Homo sapiens: one gene and its partners. The protein of the gene in region 3 purifies or fractionates together with the protein of the main gene of each other region. This does not show direct contact. Each region holds a gene or a part of one and is shown on either strand. Other genes may lie near its edges.

The links.
Region 1: the proteins of LPGAT1 (region 3) and SNRNP27 purify together in Homo sapiens (co-immunoprecipitation; one large-scale study listed by IntAct). This does not show direct contact.
Region 2: the proteins of LPGAT1 (region 3) and POTEF purify together in Homo sapiens (affinity purification with mass spectrometry; 3 studies listed by BioGRID and IntAct, with this or other methods). This does not show direct contact.

What each region holds. Positions count from the first base shown.
Region 1 is NC_000002.12:69,896,855-69,900,506, reverse strand, and holds part of SNRNP27 (U4/U6.U5 small nuclear ribonucleoprotein 27 kDa protein), read right to left. Parts: intron 3,131-3,652; coding exon 3,051-3,130; intron 1-3,050. UniProt on the Homo sapiens protein: May play a role in mRNA splicing.
Region 2 is NC_000002.12:130,073,014-130,077,353, reverse strand, and holds the end of POTEF (POTE ankyrin domain family member F), read left to right. Parts: intron 1-152; coding exon 153-273; intron 274-1,781; coding exon 1,782-3,110; 3' UTR 3,111-3,819; downstream 3,820-4,340.
Region 3 is NC_000001.11:211,747,212-211,750,863, forward strand, and holds part of LPGAT1 (acyl-CoA:lysophosphatidylglycerol acyltransferase 1), read right to left. Parts: intron 2,840-3,652; coding exon 2,688-2,839; 3' UTR 1-2,687. UniProt on the Homo sapiens protein: Lysophospholipid acyltransferase involved in fatty acyl chain remodeling of glycerophospholipids in the endoplasmic reticulum membrane.

The DNA of each region.
Region 1 (3,652 bases), on a different chromosome or scaffold from region 3:
TTTTCATGTATTTTTTTGGAGGTGGAAGGTAAGTCCTGAACAAATTACTTGTGAGGTATATGATTTTGAACTCCCTATAATAGGAAGTAAGCATGACTTAGAAAGACTGGTCTTGGGCACAAAAAAGTAAATGATGATAACCTTTTTACAAAGTTCGATTCCTAAAGGTTTACTGATTTCTGGAAACTATTTGCAGAATTGCATATTATTAGCCCTATCCTCATTTATTTACATGCTGGCATAGAAAATTATCCATTAATAAACAAAACCAAACTTTGAAACCATCTAGAAAAATGTTATTGAAGTAATTGCAGTTTTAGCCATTATTTTCAATGGCAAAAACTGTAATTACTTTTCCACCAATCTAATAAGATGAAAGGGAAAAGCCAAGCACATTGCTGTGAGGCTACAGTCCCAGCTACTTGGGAGGCTGGGGCAAGAGGATTTCTTGAGCCAAGGAGTTTGAGTACAGCCTGGACAACATAGGAAGACTCTGTCTCTTCAAAAATAAAAAAAAAAAAATGGACTGAGGCAGGAGGATTTCTTGAGGCCATGAGTTCAAGACCAATCTAGGCAGCACAGCAAGACCCTATCTCTGCAAAAAATAAAAACATTATCCTGGCGTGGCGGCATGTGCCTACTCTCAGCTACTCCAGAGGCTAAGGCAGGGAAATTGCTTCAGCCCAGGAGGTCAGGCTGCAGTGAGCCATGATCATACCACTGTACTCCAGTATGGGTGGCAAAACAAGACCCTGTCTCTAAAAAACTAAAAAATGAGGCCGGGCGCAATGTCTCACGCCTGTAATCCTAGCACTTTGGGAGGCCAAGGCAGGTGGATCCCTTCAGGCCAAGAGTTCGAGACCAGCCTGGCCAATATGGCGAAACCCCATCTCTACTAAAAATACGAAAATTAGCCAGGCGTGGTGGCAGGCGCCTGTAATCCCAGCAACTTGGGAGGCCAAGGCAGGAGAATCGGTTGAACCCAGGAGGCGGAGGTAGCAGTGAGCCGAGATTGCGCCGCTGCACTCCAGCCTGGACAACAGAGCGAGACTCTGTCTCGAAAAAATAAAATTAAAATAAAAAATAATACAAATAAAAAAATGAAAATACAATCAAATAGAAAGGAAAATGGGTGACTATACTGGCATATGAAGAGGTCCCACAATAGATCAATGATGAAACATCACAAGACACACATTACTTAAAAACACAAATGAGCTGACGTTATAACTGATAGCCATGAAGCCAACTGCATATAAACTAAATTGACATCCTTGTAGATGTCATTTTAAAAAACTGACATCAATTAGTGTGATGGTACTCCATAATTTTTTTAAGATCTATGACTTTTCACCTAAGTTTTCCTTTATAAGCAAACATCTTCTTCACTGACTACATTTAAGTGATGGGTGGCACCACCCTTAGATCTGACTTTCAGGAACTTTAAACCTAACATCCAGCAACAGGAAAACCAAAAAACAAAGAAAATAATTCCATTTTCTTTGGGGAAAAAGTTCCCTCCCCATTCTTCTAAAGACAATAAAACTATAGTTGCTTTACTTTTGACATATTTTAATTCACCCAACATATATCTTAATAAACTTACATTTCACCCAACATATATCTTAATAAACTTTCATTTATAAAATAGTCTTTGGAAAATAAATAAGAATTTAGGGCATTCAAGGGAAAAAAGCTGATAAATAAACTTCATTAAATTCCAAAACAGAGCTCACATAACCATTGCAAGAACAAGAGCTTGTTCTTAATTTCTCACCTCAAAACAGTCATGCCTCAGTACTCCTAAGTTACACACTGTCATTTTAAAACATGTGAGCCCTACACAGTCACATTAGTTAGAAAGAAACTTACAGCCACTGAGATTACCCCATTCCATTAGCAACTCAATGGAATACAAGACTTGGGAAAGTGGATTATTTTTGACAACTTTTTCTCAAACATCTCTATTTCCATTTGCAAAACTAAATGGAAAGACTTAAAATTCTAGAAAAGAGATTTTAAAAAATATGTTTTTCTTTCCACACACCCTCCCTCTCTCCATCCCCTCTCCTCTCTTCATTTCCTCTCTCTATACCCATCTCTCTCTTCCCCCATCTCTCGCTCTATGCTCTCCCTCCTCTATATAATCCCTCCCTCTTTTTCCTCTTCCCTCATCTCTCTGCTATTATGAAGGCTAGACAGCATTCCCTCCCCTATCCACCCCACTTCTAAGCTATGAGACAAGTATGCAGCTGCCCAATGTCATCTCTATCTGGCAGCTGGATTTTGTTCTTCCATTTCCCAGCAGTTCCCCTTCCAGAAACTCTGTTCTGGGTTAACTGTATCACTCAGGGTCCCAGCCTGACACCTGAGAGGCATTACTAACTACTCACTCCCACTTCCCCCAGCTCCTGAATCATTCTCAACTCAGTTCAGGCCTTTATCATCTTTCACTTGCACAAATCAGCAGTTCTCCCTGCCTTCAATCTAACCCACCTCCCATCTGTCCTCCATGCTGCCCCCAGAGTCATTATTCCAAAACACACATATAACCATGCCACTCCCTTATTTAAAAATCACTACTTCCTCTCCTCAACACCAAAAGAATAAACTCTGAATTCCTTAGCATGACTAAGGGCATCAAAAGCCCTCTGTGATTTGCCTCCTACCTCTATTTCTAGCCTAAGTCACTAGCCCATCAGCACCCCTTTATCCCTGGTCGAATCTGAAATTCCCACAATACACTATGCTCCTTTACACCTACATGGCATTTTCATGAGCTCTTCCCTCTACCTGAAATAATCTTCTTCCTCTTCTTTGTCTGATCACTTCTACTTGTCCTTTAAAATCTAATTCAAACATCGTCCCTGGCAACCACTCCCTGAATTCCAATGGCAGTTCACTGTTTCCTCCTTTGTATTCTCAAAGCCCTTCAAACAGATAGTTATTGTCTTATAACCAAATAAATTTGTATAAATGGAAAAGAACATGGAAAGATAGGACAGTCATAACATATTAATTCAAATGAGAATGTTGCACGTTTTACTTACTTTTGTGGAGTCAAAGGAGGCAAATCCCATTAACTTCATCATTTCTATTTCTTCCTCTGTTTTGCCCTCTAAGTCTTCCTCTGCAAAAAAGAATAATTTTGTGACCTCTCTATCATTTCAAATATATACATAAATAAAAAGAGAGGTGGTAACAGATTAATAGTCATTCCACCTCACTAGCAGAGAACACACAAAACAATTAGCTGAAGATGAGTCTAATGAAAAAATTCCTCTTACATTTGGACAGAATGTAACTTATGGTACAAAAAAAAAGTCCTCTCCTTGAAGCCTTTAGACAGGATTACCTTTTAAAAAAAAACCTGGGTTTCATATTAAGGACTACCTTTAATATCAGGCATGACACTATATAGTTCTGAAGACACTTCCAAAATAGAATATTCTCATGTTTTTAACTATCGTTCTATATCAGGAGCACCATAGATAACCAGCAACTTGCTAGGGTGCAATTAAAACAAAATCTCAGGCTGGGCACGGTGGTTCACGTCTATAATCCCAGCACTTTGGGAGGCCGAGGCGGGAGGATCACCTGAGGTCAGGAGTTTGAGACCAGCCTGGCTAACATGGTGAGAACCCGTCTCTAC
Region 2 (4,340 bases), on a different chromosome or scaffold from region 3:
ACACCTGGTTAACAGATGTGAGACCCCTTTGCCTTGTCTTGGAATAATGTGCAGATATGCATTGTGTGAATGACATCTGATGGCGCCATCTTGCCCTGTACATCATTTTAGGGACAGCTCCAGTATTTCATGAAAATTAAAATTTCTTCTAGTGACGAACAAAATGATACTCAGAAGCAATTTTGTGAAGAACAGAACACTGGAATATTACACGATGAGATTCTGATTCATGAAGAAAAGCAGATAGAAGTGGTTGAAAAAATGAATTCTGAGGTATTTTCTTTAGTTATTTTCAAATGTTTTTATATGTGTGTATATTTTAAAGAACTGTATTTTGGAAATATAAAGGATTTTTAAGTCATATATATGTGTGTATATATTCTATATATCCTTTGTCATATATCTATATACGTACGTATAGGATAAAGCCATGTTCTTAATTCACCTTCATTTGCCTGCAACAGTTGAGTAGTGACCTGCACAATGGCCTCAATCCAAAGGAGAAGTATTTGATATTTTTCATAAGAATTGATGATCTTTCCACATCAGAAATAAGTTTTGCTACTGAAAACAGATTTTCTCGTTTTTGGACATTAGTTTTTTAAAAAATGTTAATAGAGAAGTCAATTGATTATTTTTACTGATAAGAAAGTAGGAAATGTATAGCTGGGTCAGAGGCCACATTGTGGATACCATTATCCTTACTTTTGCAGAGAGGAACAGTTTGCTCCAAGTAGTTTCTCATTTCAATGTAAAGAGGTTTGAAAAGAATGACATGCCATGATACACATTTAGTAATAATTTATTGATAAGTATTTTCTTTCTGGAGAAATAGTTCAGTATATTTCCCCTATTTCACCATTACTACTGTTTCAAACATTATAAAGAGGAAATAAAAGTTACCGCAATGGCAAATAATCTCATGATTTCTAAGAAAATCTCTATAAGTTGTATCTTATTTACCATTCATATTTTGAAACAAAAGGTTTCTTTTGTATTTATATATTTACACCACAGAAGTAAGTGTGGTTTTGTGGAGGATCACTAGAAGTAGCATCAGCAGACCTGGGGAAAATCCTGCATCTGTGTATATTTTTTGACCTCTCCTTTTAAGAATCGCGATCTTAAATGAGTTCAGTATTATATGTAGAAGAGCAATGCCTAGATACAGATGTGTACAGTGTAGAAGGGTACAGTGCTTATTTGACAGTTATAAATAAATGTAATTCTTATAACTGAGTATAGAAATATTAGAAATGTAGAATATCGGTAAAACGTTCTTAAGTAAAAGAAACTTAAAGAACTTTGAGAAATTGCTTCTGTCCAAATATATGCATAGCTAAGGCTCTTAGGATGGTGTGGTTGATAGGTTAGATATCAGAGTGTAAACCTAATCTTAAAAATGTAGTCAAATTATTAATCTTATATTTTATGCCTCTGGGTTTTTTGTAACTCAGAAAAAAGGCTTTTTTTAATTCTGGGATTCTTAAAAATCCTCTAGTGATTTATTTTTCATCGTCTTTAAATAAATATTTAAACTTTTAGGAATTTAGGAGCAGATTCCTAAAAGTTTAAATATTTATTTAAAGACGATGAAAAATAAATCACTGGAGGAATTTACACTCTTATTAGGTTTGAAGTTTTGTCCAATTTTTTTCCAGTTAAATATCCACTATGGGGATTCTTTCATTATACAAATACATGTTATTTTTGAATTTCAGAAGAAATCATGATATGTCAATCTATTGAGTGCTAACTAAAAGTTCTCTTTGTTTACTTAGCTTTCTCTTAGTTGTAAGAAAGAAAAAGACATCTTGCATGAAAATAGTACGTTGCGGGAAGAAATTGCCATGCTAAGACTGGAGCTAGACACAATGAAACATCAGAGCCAGCTAAGAGAAAAGAAATATTTGGAGGATATTGAAAGTGTGAAAAAAAGGAATGATAATCTTTTAAAGGCTCTACAATTGAATGAGCTCACCATGGATGATGATACCGCTGTGCTCGTCATTGACAACGGCTCTGGCATGTGCAAGGCCGGCTTTGCGGGCGACGATGCCCCCCGGGCTGTCTTCCCTTCCATCGTGGGGCGCCCCAGGCAGCAGGGCATGATGGGGGGCATGCATCAGAAAGAGTCCTATGTGGGCAAGGAGGCCCAGAGCAAAAGAGGCATCCTGACCCTGAAGTACCCCATGGAACACGGCATCATCACCAACTGGGATGACATGGAGAAGATCTGGCACCACACCTTCTACAACGAGCTGCGTGTGGCTCCCGAGGAGCACCCCGTCCTGCTGACCGAGGCCACCCTGAACCCTAAGGCCAACCGCGAGAAGATGACCCAGATCATGTTTGAGACCTTCAACACCCCAGCCATGTACGTGGCCATCCAGGCTGTGCTGTCCCTGTACACCTCTGGCCGTACTACTGGCATCGTGATGGACTCTGGTGACGGGGTCACCCACACTGTGCCCATCTATGAGGGGAATGCCCTCCCCCATGCCACCCTGCGCCTAGACCTGGCTGGGCGGGAACTGCCTGACTACCTCATGAAGATCCTCACCGAGCATGGCTATAGGTTCACCACCATGGCCGAGCGGGAAATCGTGCGTGACATCAAAGAGAAGCTGTGCTATGTTGCCCTGGACTTCGAGCAGGAGATGGCCACGGTGGCCTCCAGCTCCTCCCTAGAGAAGAGCTACGAGCTGCCCGATGGCCAGGTCATCACCATCGGCAACGAGCGGTTCCGCTGCCCCGAGGCGCTCTTCCAGCCTTGCTTCCTGGGCATGGAATCCTGTGGCATCCATGAAACTACCTTCAACTCCATCATGAAGTCTGATGTGGACATCCGCAAAGACCTGTACACCAACACAGTGCTGTCTGGCGGCACCACCATGTACCCTGGCATGGCCCACAGAATGCAGAAGGAGATCGCTGCCCTGGCGCCTAGCATGATGAAGATCAGGATCATTGCTCCTCCCAAGCGCAAGTACTCCGTGTGGGTCGGTGGCTCCATCCTGGCCTCGCTGTCCACCTTCCAGCAGATGTGGATCAGCAAGCAGGAGTATGATGAGTCAGGCCCCTCCATTGTCCACCGCAAATGCTTGTAGGTGGACTCTGACTTAGTTGCGTTACACCCTTTCTTGACAAAACCAAACTTCTCAGAAAACAACATGAGATTGGCATGGCTTTATTTGTTTTCTTGTTTCATTTTTTGTTTTGTTTTTTATTGGCTTGACTCAGGATTTAAAAACCGGAATGGTGAAGGTGACAGCAGTCGGTTGGAGGAAGCTTCCTCCAAAGTTCTACAATGTGGCCAAGGACTTTGATTGTACCTTGTTCTTCTTTTCAATAGTCATTCCAAATATTGTGAGACGCATTGTTTCAGGAAGCCCCTTGCCCTGCTAAAAGCCACCCCACTTCTCTCTAAGGAGAATGGCCCAGTCCTCTCCCTAGTTCACACAGGGGAGGTGATAGCATTGCTTTTGTGCAAATTACATAATGCAAAATTTTTTGAATCTTCGCCTTAATACTTTTTAATTTTGTTTTATTTTGAATGATCAGCCTTCGTGGCCCCCCTCTTTTGTACCCCAACTTGGGGTGTATGAAGGCTTTTGGTCTCCCTGAGAGTGGCTGGAGGCAGCCAGGGCTTACCTGTACTCTGACTTGAGGAGAGTTGGATAAAAGTGCACACCTTAAAACAAATTGAGGAAGCACAGTATTTCAGTACAGTGGACAGCTTAGCATGTTGACAACTGAGAATAAAATGCTCAGTTCTGAACTGGACAATGTAAGACACAACGAGGAAACACTGGAAATGGAAATTCAATTACGTCATTGTAGACTGGCTGCTGCTCTACATGATTGTGACCAAAGTCAGATAGCTGAAAGAGACTTCTTTCCAGAGAACAAGACATGAACAGGTTTATTTACAGAAGACAATGAATTCTCATTTATCTCACCTAAAAGAGAACAGATTCTTTCTCAACAAGTCTAATGAAGACAGTAAAATCAACAGGCTAAAAATTAAGCTCCACGAAACAAGATAAAACTCTGAGAGAAAAGACGGGGCAGGCCGCCATCTTTCCCGTTCAGGCAACGTAGTCATTCCAGCCTGCGGGCTTTGGAGAGTACAAACCGACGAGGGACAGAAGAGATCCCACAGCACAGCATAGCTGCTTTACCAAATCATGGCCAGACTGCTTCTGTAAGCAGGCCCCTGATCCTGTTCCACCTCACTGGACAGGACCTCCCAACTGGGGCCTCCAGCTACCCCCACCAGCATTCCTTGGCCAATGGAAATGTGAAATGTTCCTGGGACAGAGCTCCCGGAGAGGGGC
Region 3 (3,652 bases):
TGCAAGCAGGAGAACTCCAGTTACTGATAAGGAAAGCACTACCAATGCTTTCAAACATATTTTGCAAACAGAAGAGAGAGAACATGTTAAAGAATCAAAGAAGGATAGGGCAGATCAAATACACATCTATTTACAACTCACGGAGATATTTAAAAAAATTAACTCACATATCTATTGGCATTTGTCACCCTGGAGACTGTGAAAATGACACCGTACTTGAAAAGTAAAGCATCTTATAGAATAGTTTAATGTGTACAGTATATTTAACAATATCATGTTCCTTTGGAGCACAGTGATGGCAAAAGTGGCCCTCAGCCACATTTATGTATGCATGTTCGCATTTATTTTTGGATAGGAGAACTGGTCACTCTACCCTGTGGCTTGCTGTAGCAATGAGGAAAAGGTCTATCAGCTAGGACCGTGCATGCTGTATTTGACAGTGAGCAACTTCTCCCCCAGATGGTTGACTAATCCCTCAAGTGAACAATTTCATTTCATCCAGTAATTTAGTGGTGCTTGCTGGGCCTCAAACAGAAGCATCATTAAGCTTCTATTGGGCTTTCTGTCATCATCCATACCTCTAAATTGAGATTGGTTTCATTTATTCACCGACACTGTAGAACACATAATGAAATGCTTAGATTTAAAAAAAAATTGCATTTTATAACAACCAGTCCCCAAACCAAACACATTAACACTGTCTTCTGCATTTTACCAGTAGTAGTATAATATTCAATGAGGTATTTCAGTTAATGCATCATTCTCTTTCACATATGCACTGAGTTATCGTAAAGATGAAGCTGCTGTGGGCTTTTATTTGGTGTTGCTTTACCTTTCCCACATAACTGGGGAAAATTCACATCTTTTCTGTTTTTTTTTGGTTTATTTAAAAATAGAAAACAGCAACCTTTTTTTGTTTTATAGCCTACTTCTCAAAATTGTTGTGTGATTAGTGACAACGGGGGAATCTACAATGCTCACATCACAGTAAACTACCACTGACTTACTAGGATCTTAATAGTCTTACAATCCCAAACAAAAACCCTACTCATCTCACTGATGCAGTACCAGCACTTTTGGAGAAGGGTGTGGTTCTCTTATGAGGTAAATTGTACAAACATCGCAACAAATTTCTAAAAAATGTTTTCTAGAAATAGAAACTTGACTTTACCCTCTTCAAAAGCAACTGGAGGCCGGGCGTGGTGGCTCACGCCTGCAATCCCAGCACTTTAGGAAGCCGAGGTGGGCAGATCACCTGAGGTCAGGAGTTCGAGGCCAGCCTGGCCAACATGGTGAAACCCCATCTCTACTAAAAATACAAAAATTAGCCAAGCATGATGGTGGGTGCCTGTAGTCCCAGCTACTCGGGAGGCTGAGGCAGGAGAATCGCTCGAACCCGGGAGGCAGAGACTGCAGTGAGCTGAGATTATGCCACTGCACTACAGCCTGGGTGACAGAGTAAGACCTGTCTAAAAAAAAAAGAAAAAAGAAAAAGCAACTGGAAGAGATTGGGGGGAGCCTTATGTGCTGGTATCGTTCCTAATTACACTCACCCTGACAGGGGCAGCTCCTTGATGTAATGATTCAACAGACTACTGTCTGCACAGGTCCTAGGGGTGCCACATGAGAACCTGTCACCATTATAAGCCACTAGCTCTTATTTTTCTATAAACTAGCCTATTTCCCCTTAAACTGATCATTTAAATGTTCTATAGTAATTTGTTTTAACCATCCCCAAATGCATTTAGTGCCAATGTCAAAATGGAAAAAATAAAGCCTCTGAGCTGCAATAGAGGCATCACGTCAGGGTGGTGTCCAGGGCAGGATGGCGCTGGAGAGCACTGGCAGGCAAATAAACACACAGAGACAAGACAGTTCTCGAGAACCTCACACACTGCTATGCTCCCATTTGTTTTCAGGCTATATTACTAATCCTTTGCTATATCTGCATCTCAAAAAAGTGCATTTTGCAAAATTATCAATTTATGATATGCCTCTGATACAAAATGAGAAGTCAGATAAGGAAAAGCACGAGTGTATGTAAACACAGTGTTGGACTGAGCTAGCCTTTGTAAAGAACACATCCAGTACCAGAAGGGGTCCAGTGGACACTGCTTTTCCCCCACAGAGAATGTCAATATTCTAGAGTTTGTTACTGCAACAGACTGGAGTTTGTTACTGCAACAGACTGGAGTTTGTTACTGCAAACGACAGGGAAAGAGTTCTTCACGAGGTGCCAACCAGCTCCCCTCAAGTTTACTGAGTTGGTGGAAATGTGGGCGTTCTAGAGAACTGCCCTAATATAGACTACAGCTAAGAGGGATGAATATAACTTTCTGAGCTTCAACTAAATTGTCAAGTATAACTGGTGGCAACAGAATTTCTCTCAGATAGTCTTCTAGGATGATTTTATGATTTCCTCTTCTCCAAATGTGATGTTTGCTTAAATATGTGATAGAGTGTATCTTTTTAAAACATGTTCTTAAAATATATTAGCAGGTCATTATATTACTAATCCTCATTTTAGTAGATTTTAAAATATCCCAAAGGGGGATAAATATTAATCCATCCATTGAATTTCTTTTGCTTTTTTTTAAATATATTCTGATTTGCACATGTAAAATAATGCACACTTATGAAAGAAAGTCTGAACTCCTACGGTGACCTTGACAAGTCCACGTCAATTCCTAAAACAGGCAATGGTAAAAATACTGAATGATGTTGTACCACATATAGCCTGACAAAAATGCAAAAGACTGTATGAGAAATATCCACAAGTTGCTGAGGGTCATCTCCCTGGAAACAGCTTCCTTATGGCCCTTGGAAGGTGGAAAAGCTCCTAAAAGACAAGATAGAAATATTAGTTTGTTTTACTGTAATGGTAGGTCTCCTGGAATAAAAGTTGAATATTAGCTTAACTACATTTGTACATGTTAAAGCACCTTCAGTGACTTTCCAGTGCCCCAGAGGAGAGATTTTATTTGAAATACAATTTCTGTACTACCTAGCCCCTTCTTGCCTCTGAGCCTTTGCCTTTTCTCTGCCTGCAATGCTGTCCTCCTCCACTTAATGAATAGCTGGCTCATGTGCATCCTTTCCATATCAGAAAAGATATTCCCCCTCCCATCTCTGTTTATCTCCTTCCTGGAACTTTTTCCAATTGGTCATGATCCCAATTATCTTTCTTTCTGCAGACTTGTTTGCCATGTCTCCCACTGGAATATAATCTGCATGAGAGCAGGCACTCTAGCTGCCTTGTCTCTGCTGGATCCCTAGAGATTCCCACAGTGATCAGGACCCAGGATTATGTGAGATTGACATGAAATAATTTCTGAAATAGCACACTTTATGCTGATTCCTCTATTTACAAATTTTTTGTCAAAAAAGTAGTTGTATAACACTGACATTATTTTTAAAAGGCAATATGCTTTATGAAATGTATCTTAATAATAAAAGAAATACAAAGTAAACAGATGTCTTTAAATTCGTTTCTGGAAAGGAATGCTAGATAACTTCATACAGCAATATTACCTAAGGTCATCTTGATAACACTCATCAGCATTTCAAGCAGTCTTTGTCCTTGCTGATAATCCCCAGGGTAAGCTGATTCATGAGGGGATTTGCTTCTCACAGGCAATTTACAGAGTGCATT